Linked DNA regions of Homo sapiens. The protein of the gene in region 3 interacts with the protein of the main gene of each other region in a pairwise test. Each region holds a gene or a part of one and is shown on either strand. Other genes may lie near its edges. The genes, in order: CHIC2, PSMB2, AXIN2 and KRTAP10-10.

What was found.
Region 1: the proteins of AXIN2 (region 3) and CHIC2 interact in binary tests that used the Homo sapiens proteins (3 or more experiments, as listed by UniProt).
Region 2: the proteins of AXIN2 (region 3) and PSMB2 interact in binary tests that used the Homo sapiens proteins (3 or more experiments, as listed by UniProt).
Region 4: the proteins of AXIN2 (region 3) and KRTAP10-10 interact in binary tests that used the Homo sapiens proteins (3 or more experiments, as listed by UniProt).

Annotation. Positions count from the first base shown.
Region 1 is NC_000004.12:54,009,242-54,012,611, reverse strand, and holds the end of CHIC2 (cysteine-rich hydrophobic domain-containing protein 2), read left to right. Parts: intron 1-2,466; coding exon 2,467-2,517; 3' UTR 2,518-2,823; downstream 2,824-3,370.
Region 2 is NC_000001.11:35,631,503-35,638,555, reverse strand, and holds part of PSMB2 (proteasome subunit beta type-2), read left to right. Parts: intron 1-2,123; coding exon 2,124-2,246; intron 2,247-7,018; exon of another isoform or gene 7,019-7,053. UniProt on the Homo sapiens protein: Non-catalytic component of the 20S core proteasome complex involved in the proteolytic degradation of most intracellular proteins. This complex plays numerous essential roles within the cell by associating with different regulatory particles.
Region 3 is NC_000017.11:65,528,034-65,530,672, reverse strand, and holds the end of AXIN2 (axin-2), read left to right. Parts: intron 1-570; coding exon 571-697; 3' UTR 698-2,110; downstream 2,111-2,639. UniProt on the Homo sapiens protein: Inhibitor of the Wnt signaling pathway. Down-regulates beta-catenin. Probably facilitate the phosphorylation of beta-catenin and APC by GSK3B.
Region 4 is NC_000021.9:44,632,418-44,639,004, forward strand, and holds KRTAP10-10 (keratin-associated protein 10-10), read left to right. Parts: upstream 1-4,938; 5' UTR 4,939-5,000; coding exon 5,001-5,756; 3' UTR 5,757-6,038; downstream 6,039-6,587. UniProt on the Homo sapiens protein: In the hair cortex, hair keratin intermediate filaments are embedded in an interfilamentous matrix, consisting of hair keratin-associated proteins (KRTAP), which are essential for the formation of a rigid and resistant hair shaft through their extensive disulfide bond cross-linking with abundant cysteine residues of hair keratins.

The DNA.
Region 1 (3,370 bases), on a different chromosome or scaffold from region 3:
ATGGATAGGAGATGTAAAGAATTTAGTGAAAAAAATATTTACTACATTTATAACACAAACACTAAGCTTAAAACTGAGGTATTAATTTTTTCATGCATTTCTAAATTTACTTTGGAAAGGAAAACATAAAAGTTATCCCAATGCTATGAATTCCAGATAGAACTATATGACTATAATTTATTCATAAAATAATTTATAACCTTCCAAAACATTCTGAACTATATGCTTTGTTTGTCAAATAAGTTTCCTTGAATTTTTAGATAATTAAGCACTTCTGCTAAAGCCATTATATTATTTTCACTCCATCATAGAAGATACCCAGAAGAGTAGTAAAGATAAAATAAATATTTCAATTGCCAGGAAAAAGCTGGGTGTAGTGGGCATGCCAGTAGTCTAGCTGGGGAGGCTGAGGCAGCAGGATCACTTGCGTCTAGGAGTACAAAGACAGTTTGGGTAACATAGCAATACCCACCTCTCTTTAAAAAAAATAATAATAAGCTGGGGAGAAAAAATGTGTTCTGCTGGATTTTCTTAGAGTATATATATATATTTGTGATAGTTGAAAGTGAGAATAATGTAGCTTAAAAAATTTATAAAAATGAATTTTAAAAGTTAAACTAGCAAATAAAATTCATTTTATCTAATGAATTTGGGCCTTTTTAACCATGTGTCCCTCTTTTCTTCAACTTTTCTTTAACTTACAGGAATTTAATTTTGTTAAAAGAAAATAATTATCCTTGATTATAATTTGAACATTGGAGATACTAAAAAATATATATATATATATTCCACCTTGGCACTAACTTTTCTTTGTTCAGATATGGTAGAGATGGATGATTTAGAATAAATGAGACAAGTGGCCAGTCTCTATGTGTGGCTTCTGAAGGAAAAATTTGTAGAATATATTATTTAAAAACTAATAGTTCAAATGTAGGCAAAGATAGCCTTTATTTTATGTTATGTATTAAAAGTGTATATTATAAAGTGTGGGGATGCCCATACCTGGGGACTAAAATTATAAAGACTGATTGAGGACATACTTGAAATACAAAATTATTTATTTAATGTTGACTCCTAAGTAGTTTAAACATTTAATTGTCAAATTTTAAAGCTGCAAAGAATCTTGTTATCTAGTTCAATGCTTTTATTTTATAGATAAGAAACCTGAGAAACAGGAAAATCTAGCTCAAATGAAGAAGCTAGTTGGGAGAAAGTATTTTAACAGGGAGCTAGTGAATATTTTGTAGGCAAATCACAGGTCAGGAGAGTGGCAAATGTGACAGCTAAGCCTTAGTGCAGGATACCTAGAGTAGGACAGGAATATTTTTGAGCCAGGTATAGAAGTGTATCTTCTTTATTGAGGCAGATCAAAAGCCAGGAGAACTGAAGAGTGAAAATGAAGATTCCTGGCCCAGACAGCTAATTTGTAGAAGTATTGAAATCTGGAGGTCATATCAAGCAAGACACAGTTTCTGAAAAAGAATGATGAGTTCACTAGACTTAGAAACTTTTAAAATCAAATAATTTTTAAATCACCATCTATTTAATACAAATTTGGAGCAAAAGAAAGAGTTGACTGTAATTTAAGAAAATTCAAATTTGGAAAAATTAGCTCTGGTCACTTTGTGTAATTCTGTGTTACCATATTTTGTTTTTGTTGGTTTTCCTTTAGTTTCCTATTAAAAGGCCTTTTGGAACAAATTTTAGCCTTTAATTTTGCTAACCTAAGAAGAAATGGACTTTTTAAAAAATTAAGAGATAAAGGACCTTTTATCTAAAGATTACATATTCTGGTAGAGTAAAATGAGAGCAACTCTAGAACTTAGAGAAGACTCATGTAGTTGGGTTGATTAAAAAGGAGAAAGTCTAAAGAAAAATGTTGGGTGAGCTGCAGTCACGTAGGGTGGTATAAAGGGCAAGGCTTTGGAGTTAAGACAGTCTTTTATTCAAACAGTGACTCCACATTCAATTGTGATACAACTTCTCTGGATCATCAGTTTCCTCATCTGTGAAATAAGGATTATAATACTTGCCTCATAGAAAAGTTGTTGGGTTTAAAGAGACCCAATGTAGTATGGAACACCTGGTATACAGTTAGTTCTAAGTAAATACTAGCCTCTTTTCTCATGAGTGCAGGGGAGCGTGCATGTATGCATGTTTGCTCCTCCAGTGTATCAGGGGCACTATCTATATCACCCTTCTCAGACTTTGGTGATTTTACTTGCTTATTTGTCTTCCTTTTCATAGAGCCAAGGTATTTCGTGTATTTGGTAAAGGTCCAGAAATAAAAAGAAAAATTCTCAGTGATGGAACTCTGCATTATCAGATAAAGATCTGTTTTAGTAATGCAAAGTTGCGTTTTAAAATGTGAATGGATTTTCAAAAAAATTGTGAAAGCATATAATTGAAGTTTTAAGAAAAAATTTTGTTTAAATCTTTTAAAACCTTTTTCTTCTCCTTTTACAGGTCATCCTCATAGAATTTTTACCAAAGACACCGATTTTTCGACCAGATTAGCATTTACTTTATTTATAGAGACTTTCCAAGTATGTTGTCTTTCCAATGGTGCCTTGCTTGGTGCTCTCCTGGTGGTGACATAACATTGGTTCTACAGAATCGTGTGGTGTTTTTTTTGTTTTTGTTTTTGTTTTTTTTTTAAATAACCGCATGTTCTAAGTGTGCATTTTTGTCAATCTTTGCAACAGTTATTTCATACAGATGTTTAATACTTAAGTTATTGTGCTCTTTTCTGTTATGTATTCTGATTTTCAAGGATTACTTTTTTGTATTATCAAAAAAATACATTTGAACTTAGCATAAAAAGTGGCCAGCCTTTTTTATTTTGTCACCAAGGTACACACAGTCCTTTATTTATAAATTCCTTAACAGAGAAAAACACCTTTGTAAGGCTCAACTTACCTATTCCAGCAAGCACACTTTTTCTGTCATTTTTTCTTTCTTTTCAAATTTGATATTGTCATTATTTTAAAATAGTAAGTTTTCTTTAATAGTCTTTTGGGACCTAACATACCCTTTCTCATACAATTCCTAATGCTCTGTTTATGGCAGATAATCTGTAATGTTATGAAGACCTATCAAAAAGTTTTAAAAGTATTTCTGTCTTCAAAGGTAGTAAGACAGGATTAAATTTTTATTAGAATAGACAAATCAGTGAATGGTATGCATGTATCTAGTGGTTACTAGAACTCAGGATCACACAATATAGTAGCATCACGATCTGTGTATATTTTTGATCAAGATGATAATAATGGCCTTACTTGGGTTTTTATCGTTTATCAAATCTTACATACAAAAGAGTGGAAGTATTCCTTTACAAAATTTCTAAGGAAAATATTTCTTCCAATCTATC
Region 2 (7,053 bases), on a different chromosome or scaffold from region 3:
CTTGTGAGTTAGACAGGGGTAAGTCATATTATTAACATTTCACACATTTGGAAATAACATTTCACACATCTGGAAACTGGGGCTTAGAGAGGACAAGTAATTTGCCGAAGTTCAGAGTGCCAAGTCCACATCATAACCAAGGTCTCTTGGATTCTAGTTCAGTTGGTTTTCCACAGTATGACATGCTAATGTTGTTCATTTTGTTGGCCATTTGTTTCATGTATGTGGATCTCGTAAGTTCCTCGTCAAGAATCAGAAATTCCCCAGAGCTACACAGGCAGTTTCCTGTACAACTCAGGGGTCTCTAAGTATCTATCTCTTGTGTTTTTATTAAATATGTTGCCCTCTGCTACTCATTGGACATATTCAGTGTTTAAAAAACATTTTTGGCCTTGTATTAAGCTAATTTTAAAGTTGAACAGGTTACTGCCTAGGATTTTAGCCTTTCTTCTAAGTGTGACATAAGTTCTTTGTAAACAAGCTCCCCCTTCAAATAAAAATATCTTTTTTCTTATTATAAAAATAATGCGAACTTATTGAATAATGCTTTCTTATAAAAGTGAGGCATGTTAAGTATAGAAGTTTTAGGAAAAACCAACAAGCAAAAGAAGGAAACGAAAACTGCCCATACTCTTACCACTGGCAAGCACTTAGAATATACCCTTCTGCTCCTTTTTCTTTGCATAGATAATATAAGTGAATGTTTTTCGTTTATTAACAAGTTTGCAAACTAACAATCTTTAAATCTAGCCTGCATAACAAATAAAAGTGTGTTTGTTTAGGAGTTTTGAGGCAATTTGATATTATCTACAGGTGCATTTTGTGTGTTTTTTCCCTCCAAGTCTAAGAAGCCATATTACTGGTATCTACAACTCTGAAACACTTGTAAAGTATTTGACAGTAGCATTTTGTTCTTTAAATCCTATTAAAGGATTTTGGCATTTCAGAAGCTTTCAAACAGGAAACGTGTCTCCCAGGGAGGATTATTCAGCACTATTTGAAAAATGAAAAGTGAAAGTGAAAGTGAGATAGGAAGATTTAGGCCTTTTCTGAAGCTGCAGACTGAATGTGGAGTTTTCTTCCTTAGGCAATAACTGTAACCTGAATATTTATTTATCTGTCTAATCTGAATGACTCTGGTTCAGCTAGATAAGATTAGAGTATTAGGATTTTTGTGAGGTATTTTAAATAGCTTACTGTCAAAATATTCACTAGAATTTTTGCTTTGGCAATCATTTTAATTTTCTCTTTTTCTTTGGAAGTGGAATTTGTTTACTTTTTAAAGTGATTAATATTCTCAGTTGATTTTCTATTCTTTCTTGAAATGGTTCCTTAATTTTAATTATAGCACCAGTCCTTTTCATATATGCTTTTGTATGTGTATAAATATAATAACTAACATTTGTAGTTGTGGAAACATTTTAGGGCTTTGTTATCATGAGCCTAAAGATAATCGCCATTGGCTGGATTCCTTCAGTTTCTTCTGTCGTTCTGTTCCTTGCATTTCAAATGCCTTTAAATGCTTTAAATTGTATTTTCAATTGGTAGCTTTCATGTATATTCTCCAACCGAAATTGGCATTACACAATATGCTGATGGTTTAACATGAAGAGTGAAAGAGAAAAATTGATACCATTACCTATTAAAATCTTCTAAAAGCAATAATTAGTTAAATTATTCAATATACAGTCGTCCCTTGGTATCTGTAGGGATTGGTTCCAGAACCCCTGCAGATACCCAAATCCATAGATGCTTAAAGTCCATTATATACATGGTATAGTATTTGCATATTACCTATGCAGGTACTCCTGTGTACTTCAAATCATCTCTAGATTATTTATAATACTTAATATGACATAAGTGCTATGTAAATAGTTGTTATACCATATTGTTTAGGGAATAATGACCAGAAAAAAAGTCAGTACATGTTCAGGATAGATGCAAGCATCCATTTTTTTTTTTTTCTGAATAATTTTGATCCATAGTTTGTTGAATTGTGGATTCAGAATCCATGTATATGGAAGGCCAACTGTAGTAATTAATAAACCTGTTTATGGTTACATAAATAATGACGGTCAATGTCTGTTAAGGCAGTTTCTAACACAGTTTTCTTCTTTGAGCAGATCATGACAAGATGTTTAAGATGAGTGAAAAGATATTACTCCTGTGTGTTGGAGAGGCTGGAGACACTGTACAGTTTGCAGAATATATTCAGAAAAACGTGCAACTTTATAAGATGCGAAATGGTGGGTAAGACTTACAGTTTTAGTTGGCATATGAGTTTACTAGGGCTGCCATTACTAAAGTCACAGACTGGGTGGCTTAAACAACAGAAATGTATTTTCTCACAGTTCTAGATGTTAGAAGTCAAAGATTAAGGTGTTGGCAGCGTTGATTTCTGAGGCCTCTCTCCTTGGCTTGCAGATAGCCATCTTCTCCCTGTGTCTTCACGTGATTTTTCTCTTTGTACTATATCCAAATTTTCTCTTCTAAGAATACCAGTCATGTTGAATTAGGAACTCATTTTAATTTAATAACCTCTTAAGGATCCCTTCTCCAAATACAGTCACATACTAAAGTACTAGGGATTAAGACTTCAACATATGAATTTTTGGTGGACAAAATTCAGCCTATAACAATTGGTTTGTCTTTAAATTTGAACTGAAAAATAATATTCTTTAAGACTTATGTGGTCATATTTTCTTTTTTTTTTTTTTTTTTTTTTTTGAGACGGAGTCTCGCTCTGTTGCCCAGGCTGGAGTGCAATGGCGCGATCTCTGCTTACTGCAACCTCCGCCTCCCAGGTTCAAGCGATTCTCCTGTCTCAGCCTCCTGAGTAGCTGGGACTACAGGCACGCACCACCACGTCCAGCTAATTTTTGTATTTTTAGTAGAGACAGGGTTTCACCACGTTGACCAGGATGGTCTCCATCTCTTGACCTTGTGATCTGCCCACCTCGGCCTCCCAAAGTGCTGGGATTACAGGCGTGAGCCACCACGCCCAGCCCATATTTTCATTAGAGTTTTCTGTGTTTAAGAAGTTGTCTAGACCCTAAAGATTCTAATCCTTCATAAAAGATTTTCTACAAAAATCCTAGAGCAGAGAACTGTTGTAACACTGATAGCTGATAGATAAAACTAACACCATCGGCCTGGTATGATGGCTCATGCCTGTAATCCCAGCAATTGGGGAGGACAAGGTGGGAGGATCACTTGAGACCAGGAGTTTAAGACTAGCCTGAGCAATGTAGTGACACCTCATCTCTACAAAAAAAAAAAAAATTTTTTTTTTTTTTGAGATGGAGTTTCACTCTTGTTGTCCAGGCTGGAGTGCAGTGGCACAATCTCGGCTCACCGCAACCTCTGCCTTCCAGGTTCAAGCAATCCTCCTGCCTCAGCCTCCCAAGTAGCTGGGATTACAGGCATGTGCCACCACGCCTGGCTAATTTTGTATTTTTAGTAGAGACAGGGTTTCTCCATGTTGGTCAGGCTGGTCTCAAACTCATGACCTCAGATGATCTGCCCACCTCGGCCTCCCAAAGTTCTGGGATTACAGGTGTGAGCCACCACGCCCGGCCTTCTACAAAAAAGTTTTTAAAAATTAGCTGAGTGTGGTGGCATGCACCTATAGCCCTAGCTACTCAGGAGGCTGAGGCAGGAAGATCGTTTGAGCCCAGGAGGTCGAGGCTGCAGTGAGTTATGATTGTGCCACTGTACTCTGGAAGGCAGCAAGACTCTGTCTCTAAAAAAAATTTTTTTAAACCAACCAAAAAAAAAAAAACCCAACACCATCTTGGAGGTAGGGATGGTAGTATCAGACTTTTTAAGTGTTAGATATCTCAGAGGATGTGGTTTGAGTTTAAAAGTATCTGAACCTGGCCAGGCACAGTGGCTAGCACCTGTAATCCCAGCACTTTTGAGAGGCTGAGATGGGAGGATCACTTGAGGTCAGGAGTTTGAAACCAGCCTAGGCAACAAAGCAAGACCCTGGCTCTATAAAAAATAAAAATATTTACCTGGGTGCAGTGGTGCACACCCATAGTCCCAGCTACTCAGGAAGCTGAAGTGGGAAGATCACTTGAGCCCAGGAGTTCAAGGTCTCAGTGAGCCATGATAGTGCCACTGCACTCCAGCCTGTGCGACAGAGTGAGACCCTGTCTCAAAACAAAGAAACAAAAAAATCTGAATCTCAGCGTCAAAAAACCTAAGTAAACCTTGGCTTTACTATTTTTTATGTGATAAGTCATTTATCTTCTCTGGGACTTTATTTTCCTTATCTCTGAAATGAATTATAATACTAATGAATAATACATATGAAAATATTTTGTAAACCTAAAGCATTGTGTAACTAACTATAAGTATTTACTGTGCCATAAAAGGGTTCTGCCTTACTCTCTGGTAGGTTTCCTTCTAGAGAGATAATTAAGACTTTTGTGAAGTATTTTGTGAGCTCTCTCTGGGGCTAATGAACTCTTATCCACTGGGAAAACCTCCCTAGCAAACGATACTAGCCACTAGGCCTCTGATCCAGGAATGTTTGTAGTGGTGGTCTGGCAGAGAAAACCTTATTTCCACTTACCTCACAGTTCAATAACAACGTTATACACTGCACTGGTATAATATGGAGCTATGAAGGAAGTTAATTTGAATATACTTGCATGTGTAAAATGACCAAAGATCTATTCACATAGTTTGGGCAGTGGATTTAGCATTTGTATTCAATTCCATAAATACTTTTGAGGGCCTCTTCTATGGTAAGCATTCTGCTTAATACTTAAGAGAATTCAAAGATGAATAAGGCTTAGTCCTGACATTCAGGAACATAAAGTACATGGTACTTAGGTTTATGCAGGTTTAGAATATTTCAAGAATTCTGCTTTTTTTTCCAGTGGTTCCACTTTTTGCCTGCATAACAAATGAAGTATGTCAGTAATGCTTCTGAAGTCCAGTAGGTACTGTATGACTTCACTGGCTGTCCTGAGAGAGGGAGAAGAGTGAACAAGAGTAGCAAGAGTTGTTTGTTACTGGGTTTTAGGGTCTAAAGTCAGTGCACAGACAAAAACTGTGTTTGGTTAAAATTGCCCTTAAAGACCCTTAAATTACCTGCCAAGTACAGTTTTGTGTATGTAACTCTATATAGTAATTCTTATATAAGTTAAAGAACTGAGCTAAAATAAGGGAAAGAAAGAGAAAATCTATATGCAGATAATCAGGCATGACTTTTCTGCCTTTAGGATAATGGTCAGATCTTCAGTGGTGTTTAGGGGGTTAAGTAAAGAATTGAATAGTATTCCCACTTGTCTAGGTTCCTTCTTTTTTTTTTTTTTTCTTTTTTGAGTCAGGGTCTCGTTCTGTTGCTCAGATTGGAGTGCAGTGGTGCAGTCTCAGCCCACTGCAACTTCCAGCTCCTGGGTGCAAGTGATTCTCGTGCCTCAGCCTCCTGAGTAGTTGGGATTATAGGCATGCACCGCCATGCCTGGCTAATTTTTTGTATTTTAAGTAGAGACAGAGTTTCGCTATGGTGGCCAGGCTGGTCTTAAACTCCTGTCCCCAGGTGATCCACCCACCTGGGCCTCCCAAAGTGTTCTGGGATTACAGGTGTGAGCCACTGTGCCTGGCCTCTTTTTTTAAATTATTATTATTATTTTTGTTGTTGTTGTTGAGACAGGGTCTCACTCCTGTCGCCTGGGCTGGAGTGCAGTGGCACAATCATGGCTCATTGCAGCCTCGAATTCCCAGGCTCAGGTGATCCTTCCACCTCAGCCTCCCAACTACCTGGGAAAACAGGTGTGCACCACCACCCCTGGCTAATTTTTATATTTTTAGTAGAGACGGGGTTTCATCATGTTGCCCAGAATGGTCTTAAACTCCTGGGCTCGAGTGATCTGCCTGCCTCCGCTTCCCAAAGTGCTGTGATTACAGGCATGAGCCACTGCACCTGGCCAAGGATTGCTTTCATTATGATTTAATATGCACTAATAGACTTGTGAGGATAAAGTACAATAATACATGTGAAAACACTCAGCATAGACCCTGAAACATAGTTGCTGCTCAATAAATATTTGTTAGGATTTGAATCTGAATCTCTCCTAATTTGACAGTGGTATTTGAAATGTTGTAAGCAATTACTTAACCACACTGCTGTGTGTCTTTCCATACTGACATTTTCTGTGTGGGCCCACTGAGTTATGGATCATTCTTGTGCCTTTTGGCACTGGTCCCATTCTACAGGGGGATTAAGCTCCAAAGTGAATGCGTTATTACATGCACACCTGATGCTATTCCTCTGGGTTGTACCTTTGTTGGTATGACAACTTTTATTTTTGAAGTTTTAACACTTGAGATACTCTATTTTTAAAAATACTGCAGAATGATGGAAATGTTCTTTTTCTGTGGCTTATACTTTTGAAAGTCATATTATACTTCTTAATAAAGTAACATTTAAAATATTTTTTTAATAAACTATGACTCTGAGGTAGTCCTAACTTCTAGCCTCTCTTTTCCCAATATCCTTTTTGTTCCTGTTTTCGTTTTTTTAGAGACAGGGTCTTGCTCTGTCACCCATGCTGTAGTGCAGTGGCACAGTCATAACTCACTTGAACTTCTGGGGTCAATTGATCCTCTCCACTCAGCCTCCTAAGTAGCTGGGATTACAGGCATGTACCACCATGCCTAGAAATTTAAAAAAAAATTTTTTTTAGAGATGGGGGTCTCACTATGTTGCCCAGGCTAGTCTCAAACTCCTGGGCTCAAGCGATCTTCCCACCTTGGCTTCCCAAAGCTCTAGGATTACAGGCATGAGCCACTGTGACTGGCCCCCAATATCCTTTTTAAAATAAACTTTTAAAAGATTGGCATCTAAGACGCCTTTCTTTTTTTTTCACTTCTTGTGTATTCGTGTTCCTTTCCTTCTACGGCAGAAACCACAGTGTGTTGATGAATGAATAGTTTAAGCAAGGCTGCTAGAAGTTTCATTCCACTATAGAACTGGTTCTGTTTGTGGCCAAGAATTGCTGTCAGTACTAACCAGCTATTTCATAGCTGTTGCATGAG
Region 3 (2,639 bases):
ATCCAGGAGTGTTGCACTTGGGACCTGGAGGATGGGAAGGCCGAGAGGCCTTTGGACTGCTAAACCATCTGGAAGTCAGCCTTTTACAGACTTCGGCAGGTTCCGGCTCTCCAGGTGTGATGGGTTCAGGATGGCTGAACCTGGAGATAGTCTGGAGTCTCTTTGAAGGACCTGCTTGGCTCCTGCTGCAAAGGAACTGCAGGCATTTGTCCTTCCCTTCCCTCCCCCACCCCACTGCTGAAAAAGGTTGGCGGGGGGAAAGCAGCTCTGCTTTTCACAGTGTATACGTGTCAGGAGACAGCAGAGGTGCTGGGTTGAAGATTGCAGGTGGCAGGCCCAGCCCAGGCTGCTGCTCAGTGGGTGCCTGGCCTTCATCATCTCGGCCCACCTGCTTCTTGTGGTGTGGCCAGTCCCAGCTGCCGTCTTAAAGCAGATGTGCGCAACAGTGTACAGGCACACCTGCCATAGCAAATTCCTAGGATACCTCAGTCCTCCATGTTGGTATGCTTTTCTTTTCAACAATGTGGAAAATGCAGTTTACCAAGAAGCTTTTTTGGTTTTCCTTTTAAGGTATTACTTCAAAAAAGCAAGCGATGAGTTTGCCTGTGGAGCGGTGTTTGAGGAGATCTGGGAGGATGAGACGGTGCTCCCGATGTATGAAGGCCGGATTCTGGGCAAAGTGGAGCGGATCGATTGAGCCCTGGGGTCTGGCTTTGGTGAACTGTTGGAGCCCGAAGCTCTTGTGAACTGTCTTGGCTGTGAGCAACTGCGACAAAACATTTTGAAGGAAAATTAAACCAATGAAGAAGACAAAGTCTAAGGAAGAATCGGCCAGTGGGCCTTCGGGAGGGCGGGGGGAGGTTGATTTTCATGATTCATGAGCTGGGTACTGACTGAGATAAGAAAAGCCTGAACTATTTATTAAAAACATGACCACTCTTGGCTATTGAAGATGCTGCCTGTATTTGAGAGACTGCCATACATAATATATGACTTCCTAGGGATCTGAAATCCATAAACTAAGAGAAACTGTGTATAGCTTACCTGAACAGGAATCCTTACTGATATTTATAGAACAGTTGATTTCCCCCATCCCCAGTTTATGGATATGCTGCTTTAAACTTGGAAGGGGGAGACAGGAAGTTTTAATTGTTCTGACTAAACTTAGGAGTTGAGCTAGGAGTGCGTTCATGGTTTCTTCACTAACAGAGGAATTATGCTTTGCACTACGTCCCTCCAAGTGAAGACAGACTGTTTTAGACAGACTTTTTAAAATGGTGCCCTACCATTGACACATGCAGAAATTGGTGCGTTTTGTTTTTTTTTTTCCTATGCTGCTCTGTTTTGTCTTAAAGGTCTTGAGGGTTGACCATGTTGCGTCATCATCAACATTTTGGGGGTTGTGTTGGATGGGATGATCTGTTGCAGAGGGAGAGGCAGGGAACCCTGCTCCTTCGGGCCCCAGGTTGATCCTGTGACTGAGGCTCCCCCTCATGTAGCCTCCCCAGGCCCAGGGCCCTGAGGCCTGCTAGAATCACTGCCGCTGTGCTTTCGTGGAAATGACAGTTCCTTGTTTTTTTTGTTTCTGTTTTTGTTTTACATTAGTCATTGGACCACAGCCATTCAGGAACTACCCCCTGCCCCACAAAGAAATGAACAGTTGTAGGGAGACCCAGCAGCACCTTTCCTCCACACACCTTCATTTTGATGTTCGGGTTTTTGTGTTAAGTTAATCTGTACATTCTGTTTGCCATTGTTACTTGTACTATACATCTGTATATAGTGTACGGCAAAAGAGTATTAATCCACTATCTCTAGTGCTTGACTTTAAATCAGTACAGTACCTGTACCTGCACGGTCACCCGCTCCGTGTGTCGCCCTATATTGAGGGCTCAAGCTTTCCCTTGTTTTTTGAAAGGGGTTTATGTATAAATATATTTTATGCCTTTTTATTACAAGTCTTGTACTCAATGACTTTTGTCATGACATTTTGTTCTACTTATACTGTAAATTATGCATTATAAAGAGTTCATTTAAGGAAAATTACTTGGTACAATAATTATTGTAATTAAGAGATGTAGCCTTTATTAAAATTTTATATTTTTCAAAACACTGGCCTCGTCTTTGAATCCCCAGGGTGGGAACAGGGCCGAGGGGCCCTTTTGTGTGTAGACATCTGTGCTTGATTTCCTACCTTGCCCAAGCCCGTCTCTGACCTTGAGCCCTGACCTGATCTGGACCCACCTGGAGGTTTTGTAAAGCCATTTATTCAAATCACCTGGCTACTGGCTGAGGCTTTTCTTGCCTTGGAGCAGGCTGTAGATGACATCTCCTTTGGGGGTCCTCTTCCCTGTAACACCTCCATTCAGCCTCTTCCTCCTGGGCAGATTGTCTCCAGTCCGGCCAGGTAGGTGCAGGGGACCAGGGGATGAGAGGAGGCCCTCCCAGGAGTTTCAACAGGTGTCTCCGACATGAAAGCCGTTCAGCAGATGGTTTCATAGACCTGGAATGTCCACGTGGGGCCAATGGACTTAGAGATCAAAGCTAGCCAGGCACCCTCCCCATTCTGGGAGCTGATCAACAAGGCTGACTATTAATCCTATCAGTATTTTATCGTGAGCCATCAGGCTCAGGGCCGG
Region 4 (6,587 bases), on a different chromosome or scaffold from region 3:
AATTAGGACACTTCTGGATAAATAAATGCTGAGAGAGTTTATTGCCAGTAGGCCTGCCCTACAAGAAATGACAGCTCAGGATGAAATCAAAGGGCACTAGACAATAACTTGAAGCCATATTAAGAAATAAAGAACTGGCTGGGCACAGTGGCTCACGCCTGTAATCCCAGCACTTTGGGAGGCTGAGGCGGGCAGATCAGAAGGTCAAGGGTTTGAGACCAGCCTGGCCAACATAGTGAAACTCCATCTCTGCTAAAAATACACACACAAAAAAAAATAGCTGAGTGTGGTGGTGGGCACCTGTAATCCCAGCTAGTTGGGAGGCTGAGGCAAGGAGAATCACTTGAACCTGGGAGGCAGAGGTTGCAGTGAGCCAAGATCGTGCCACTGCTCTCCAGCCTGGGTGGCAGTGCAAGACTCCATCTCAAAAAGAAAAAGAAGAAAAGAAATAAAGAACACTAATAAAGGTATCAGTTTTGGTAGTTTGTATGTTAATAGGAATTTATCCATTACATCTAGGTTATCTACATTATGAATGTATTTAATATCACTAAACATGCTTAAATGGAATAAATTTTATTGATTTTATGTGTTAGTGTACAATTGTTCATATATTCTCTTATAGTCTTTTTTATCTATATAGGTCAGCAGTAATGTTCCCACTTTCATTTCTGATTTTAATAATTAGAGCCTTCTCTTTTTTCTCAGTCTAGTTAAAGGTTTGTAAATTTTATTGTTGCTTTCAAAAAACTAATTTTAGGCTTCGTTGGTTCCATTGTTTTTCTATTCTCAATTTCTTTATTTGCTCCCTGTATTCTACATATAATCTTTATTTTCTTCCTTCTTCTAGGTTTTGGTTTAGTTTGCTCTTCCTTTTCCTGGTTCCTTAAGGTGTGAAGTTAGATTACTGAATTGAGATCTTTCTTGTTTTTTAATATAAGCATTTATAGCTACAAATTTCCCTCCATAAACTGTTTTGCCGTATCCCATAAGTTTTGGTTTGTTATATTGTCACTGTCATTTATCCCATAGTATTTTCTAACTTCTCTTTTGATTTATTCTTCAATCAACTGGTTGTTATAAGTATGTGTTGTTTAATTGCCACATATTTGTGAATTTTCCAGTTTTCCTTCTGTTATTGATTTCTAATTCCCACTGTGGTCAGAGAAGATACATTATATGATTTCAATAATTTTAAATTTATTGAGACTTGTTTTTTGGACTAACATATGGTCTAATCTGGAGAACTGAGAAGAATTTGTATTCTGCTGTTGTTGGGTTGAATGTTTTATACACGGCCATATTAGATCTAGCTTGTTTATAGTGTTCTTCAAGTTCTCTATTTCGTTATTGATCTTTGATCTAGTTCTATTTAAAAATTTTTTTTAATCAGTGGAAGTGACTTATTGAAGTCTTCAAACATTATTGTTGAACTGGAATTGCCTATTTCTTTCTTCTCTTCTTTCCATTTATGCTTGATATATCTTGGGGGTCTGATGTTTGTTAGGTACATGAATGTTTATAACTGATGTTAGGTACACAAATGCTATAAAATGATGGCTTATGCCTGTAATCCCAACTACTCAGGAGGTTGAGATGAGAGGATTGTTTAAGGCCAAGAGTTCGAGACCAGCCTGGGTAACAGAGTAAGACCCTGGTCCCTAAAAAAATATGTTTTTTCATTAGCCAAATATAGTGGTGTGCACCTGTAGTCCCAGCTACCTGGGAAACTGAGGTGGGAGGATCACTTAAGTCCAGGAGTTTGAGGCTGCAATGAGTTATGATTGTGCCACTGCACTCCAGCCTGGGCAACAGGCTGAGCAATACCCTGTCTCTGTTTTAATGGTGCTAGGACAACTGGATATCTACACACAAAATCATAAAGTTGCACTACATCTCACACCAACAAATTAACTAAAAATGGATCAAAGCCCTACATATATGAGATAAAGCCATAAAATTCTTAGAAGGAAACATAAGAGTAAATATGTATGACCTTATTTTGGGCAATGGTTTTTTAGATATGACACCAGAAGCATAAGCAACAAAAGGAAAAAATAGATAAATTGGATGTCATCAAAATTAAAAAGTTTTGTGCATCAAAGGACACTATCAAGAGAGTAAAACAACCCACACAAGGGAAGAACATGCTTGTAAATCATAATTCTGATAAGGATCTAACACCCAGAATATATAAAGAACTCTTATAATTCAACAACAAAAAGTCAACCCAATTTAAAAATAGGCAAAGTCCTTTAATAGACATTTCTCCAAGGAGGATATGCAAATGGATGATACACGCAGGAAAAGAAGCTCAATGTTATTGGTCATTAGGGAAACAGAAATCCACACCACAATGACATGCTGTTGATACTTCATACCCACCAAGATGGCTATAATTTAACACACACATACACCAACAAATAGAAGGTAGCAGATGTTGACAAGGATGAAGAGAAACTGGAATGTTTGTACATTGCTAGTGAGAATATAAAATGGTACAGATGCTGTGAAAAACAGTCTGGCACGTCCTCAAAATGTAAACATGGAATTCCATACAACTCATCAGTTCCCACTCCTAGGTATATACCCAACAGAATTAAAAAGAGGTGTTCAAACAGAAACATGTACAAGAATGTTTATAGGGCCGGGCGCAGTGGCTCATGCCTGTAATCCCAGCACTTTGGGAGGCCGAGGCGGGAGGATCACTTGAGGTCAGGAGTTCAAGACCAGCCTGGCCAACATGGTGAAACCCCGTCTCTACCAAAAATATAAAAAATTAGCTGGGTGTGGTGGTGCGCACCTGTAATCCCAGCTACTTGGGAGGCTGAGGCAGGAGAATCACTTGTACCCGGGAGGTGGAGGTTGCAGTGAGCCGAGATGGGGCCACTGCACTCCAGCCTGGGTGACAGAGGGAGACTCTGTCTCAAAAAAAAAAAAAAAAAAAAAGAATGTTTATAGAAGCACTATTCACACTAGCCAAAAGTTGAAAAGAACCCAAAAGTGCATTAGCAGATGAATGGATAAATGAAATGTGGCGTGTCCCTTTGATGGAATATGATTCAGCCAAGAAAAGGAATGGCGTTCTGAAACATACCCAAACACAGGTGTACCTTGAAAACATGCTGAGTGAACAAAGCTAGACACAAAGACCACATATTCCATGACTGCGTCTATATGAAATGTGCAGAACAGGCAAATCCATAGAGACAAGCAGAATAGTATTGGTTGCCAGGGGCTGGGCATGGCTGCTTAATAGTACCGGGGTTCCTTCGGGAGCGATGATAGTATTCTGGAACTAGGTAGTGGGGATGGTTGCACAACATTATGACTGTACTGTCACTGAATTGCACACTTTAAAATGGGTAAAATGGTACATTTTATTTTATGGTTGATCACAATTTAAATAAAATTACACCTGCCAAGGGTTTCTAAGAATGAAGCCCCTCGCTCTGCAATGCTGGATATTATCAGCATTTTAAATCTTGTTTGCTCTTACAGGTGGGAGACGTGTGTTTAAACCTGAGAAACTTTAGTTATTAATGAGATCAACTAGCTGTTCATCTCATTCATGCTTATTGGAAATTTAAAATTTTTAGTCTTCTATTCATTTCTTTTGTATCTTATCCTGTTTTAGTGGTAAGGACTTCAAATTTTTCACATTAATCTTCCACCTGTCATGGAGATTACAAGTACTTTCTGGCAGTTCATATCTTCATTTGTGTACCCAATGATTCCTTCAGGGCTGTGATGGGAACGTCGTGGATGCTGAGCTGAGCTGAGGCATGTGGACCGGTCTCCAGCACCCAACCCTGCCGGGTTTCCAGGGGACATACGTTGTATGTGTTCTGGTCAAGGTTTATGCTTTCGTTCACATCTGACCCTCTGACATTCCACTGGGCATTTTATACTTGGGTCTGCTGGCTGACGGGCTTCCTTTCCCATTGTATTTCCACACTGTCATGGCAGGGGTACAGGTAGGGGGTGCTGGGTGCAGTGACTTTGTCTCTCATCCAGCCCTTCAGTGAGCGTGGCCTGGGACAGTCACTCTGATCCTAGGTGGACAATGATGTCACCTACAGATACTAGAAATTCACATCACATTTCAACTTCTTGGCATGTGGCTTCAGCCAAAGTGCAAACATAGAGTAAGACCAGGCGTCCGGGCAGTGGGGCTGACTGTGGCCCCATCTGACACTTTTCTCATCCAGACCCCAAGTATCCTCCACTCTCCACGCAACCCTCACTCCACACCTGCCTCTCCAAGGTAGAGGCCCCTCCCCACCCTCAGACCCTGACCTGCACCCGCCCCTCTCAGGACACCTGACCAGGGCTCCAGGGGATGGCAGTCCAGACCCAAAGGCCAGTCCCCAAACCTTGTCCTCCTAATGAGCTGACTGTCCAGAGGCCTTGCCAGAACATTCCATCTCCTCAGAGGAGGGGAGGTCCTCCCTGTCCTCCTGCCCTTGGCAGACATCAGGATCTCAGAAGATCCCAGAGCCCGCCAGGAAGCGCTGTCTTCAAGCATCTTTTCCCAACACAGGCACCTCCGTCCTGGCTCTCCCAATCTCAGCCACGCCAGCCCACCCCGTGAGGTCCCTGCAGACAGAGGCTGGGCCTCCCCCAGGCTGAGGGCCCACGCTGGGCACAGTCACGGGACCTGCCAGGTGGAAGTCACCAGGTCAGCCCCAGAGAGGTCACACCTTCCCTCCTGGTGTTCCCGGGAGACAGGCTCAGCCAGGGGCGCCGGTCCTGCCCAGGACCAGCCAAGTGTTAGGAGCAGAGTGAGGACAAGTCATGGCAAAGGAAGCAGAAATAATGAGGGTCCTCCCGGCTCCAAACACCAACACGGAAGGGGAGGGCATTGCTGAGTCTCCTGCTGGGAAAACACAGGCCCTGGGCATATAAAAGCCCCAGCAGCTGACAGGCTCACACACACACTCACTCACACACTCACTCACTCACACACCTCCCCCAGCTCACCGCCTCCCCACTCCAGCATGGCCGCCTCCACCATGTCCATCTGCTCCAGCGCCTGCACTGACTCTTGGCGGGTAGTCGACTGCCCAGAGAGCTGCTGCGAGCCCTGCTGCTGTGCCCCAGCCCCCAGCTTGACCCTGGTCTGCACCCCAGTGAGCTGTGTGTCCAGCCCCTGCTGCCAGACGGCCTGTGAGCCCAGCGCCTGCCAATCAGGCTACACCAGCTCCTGCACAACCCCATGCTACCAGCAGTCTAGCTGCCAGCCGGATTGCTGCACCTCCTCCCCCTGCCAGCAGGCCTGCTGTGTGCCTGTCTGCTGTGTGCCCGTCTGCTGCGTGCCCGTCTGTAACAAGCCTGTGTGCTTCGTGCCTACCTGCTCCGAGTCTTCCCCTTCATGCTGCCAGCAGTCTAGCTGCCAGCCAACTTGCTGCACCTCCTCCCCATGCCAGCAGGCCTGCTGTGTGCCTGTCTGCTCTAAGTCCGTCTGCTATGTGCCTGTGTGCTCTGGGGCTTCCACTTCATGCTGCCAGCAGTCTAGCTGCCAGCCTGCTTGCTGCACCGCCTCCTGCTGCAGACCCTCCTCCTCCGTGTCCCTCCTCTGCCACCCTGTGTGCAAGTCCACCTGCTGCGTGCCCGTCCCCTCCTGCGGTGCCTCTGCCTCCTCCTGCCAGCCCAGCTGCTGCCGCACGGCCTCCTGTGTTTCCCTCCTCTGCCGCCCCGTGTGCTCCCGCCCTGCCTGCTACAGCCTCTGCTCTGGCCAGAAGTCCAGCTGCTGACAGCCCTGGATGTGATCCGGAGTCCCTTCCCACCAGGGGCTGACCTCCCAGCTGCCCCAGCAAGCTCTGCCCTCTCTGGCTTTGACACCCTCAGAAGGTGGGGCAGGCTCTTTGTCTTGGGGACCAGGATGCTCCCCCAGTCCTTCCCAGATGATGGCTGCCTGTGGGACCCCAGCTACTCCCCCAGACCCAAGTTCTGCAGAACTAACCCCCAGCAGGCCTGGTTCCACCCTGGGCAGCACCCCCTCTAGTTCTAATAAAGCCGCCTCTGTCTCACACCAACCTCTGTCCTGTCTGTGGACCCCCGGGGGGGCACAGGGTGAGGTGGGAAGTGATGCCACCCCTGACTGCAGGGAGAGTCCTGACCCCCAGCAGGCCTGGCTCCACCCCTCTGTCTCTGTCGACCTTCCATCCTGTCTGTGGACCCCCGAGGGGCATGGGATGAGGCAGGAAGCAATGCCTTCTGGTGCTGGCCTCTGTGAACCCTGAAGGCCAGTCTCCCTCTTAGCCCCGTGGGCCCCCAACCCCAGCACGTGGCCCCCCGGCCCATCTTAGGAAAGCTGCCTCTGGAACCAAGGCCAGGAGTTTCGGGACAAAGTGGACCCTGGCAGCACTCTGGGCCCCTGAGCCACATTCACCCTCCCCAGCTCCATGGCTGCCCCCCAGGCCTGGGGTAGACCACCTGGGGCCTGGCTCCACCCAGCAGCCTCACCCCTCCTGTTACCCCTGGGGAGACCAGCTATGGACCACAGTGCTCATCCCTGCAGCCCTCATCTCCTCCACAGTAAGACATTGGGACCACGCCCTCCCCCAGGACTCGAGCCCAGCAGC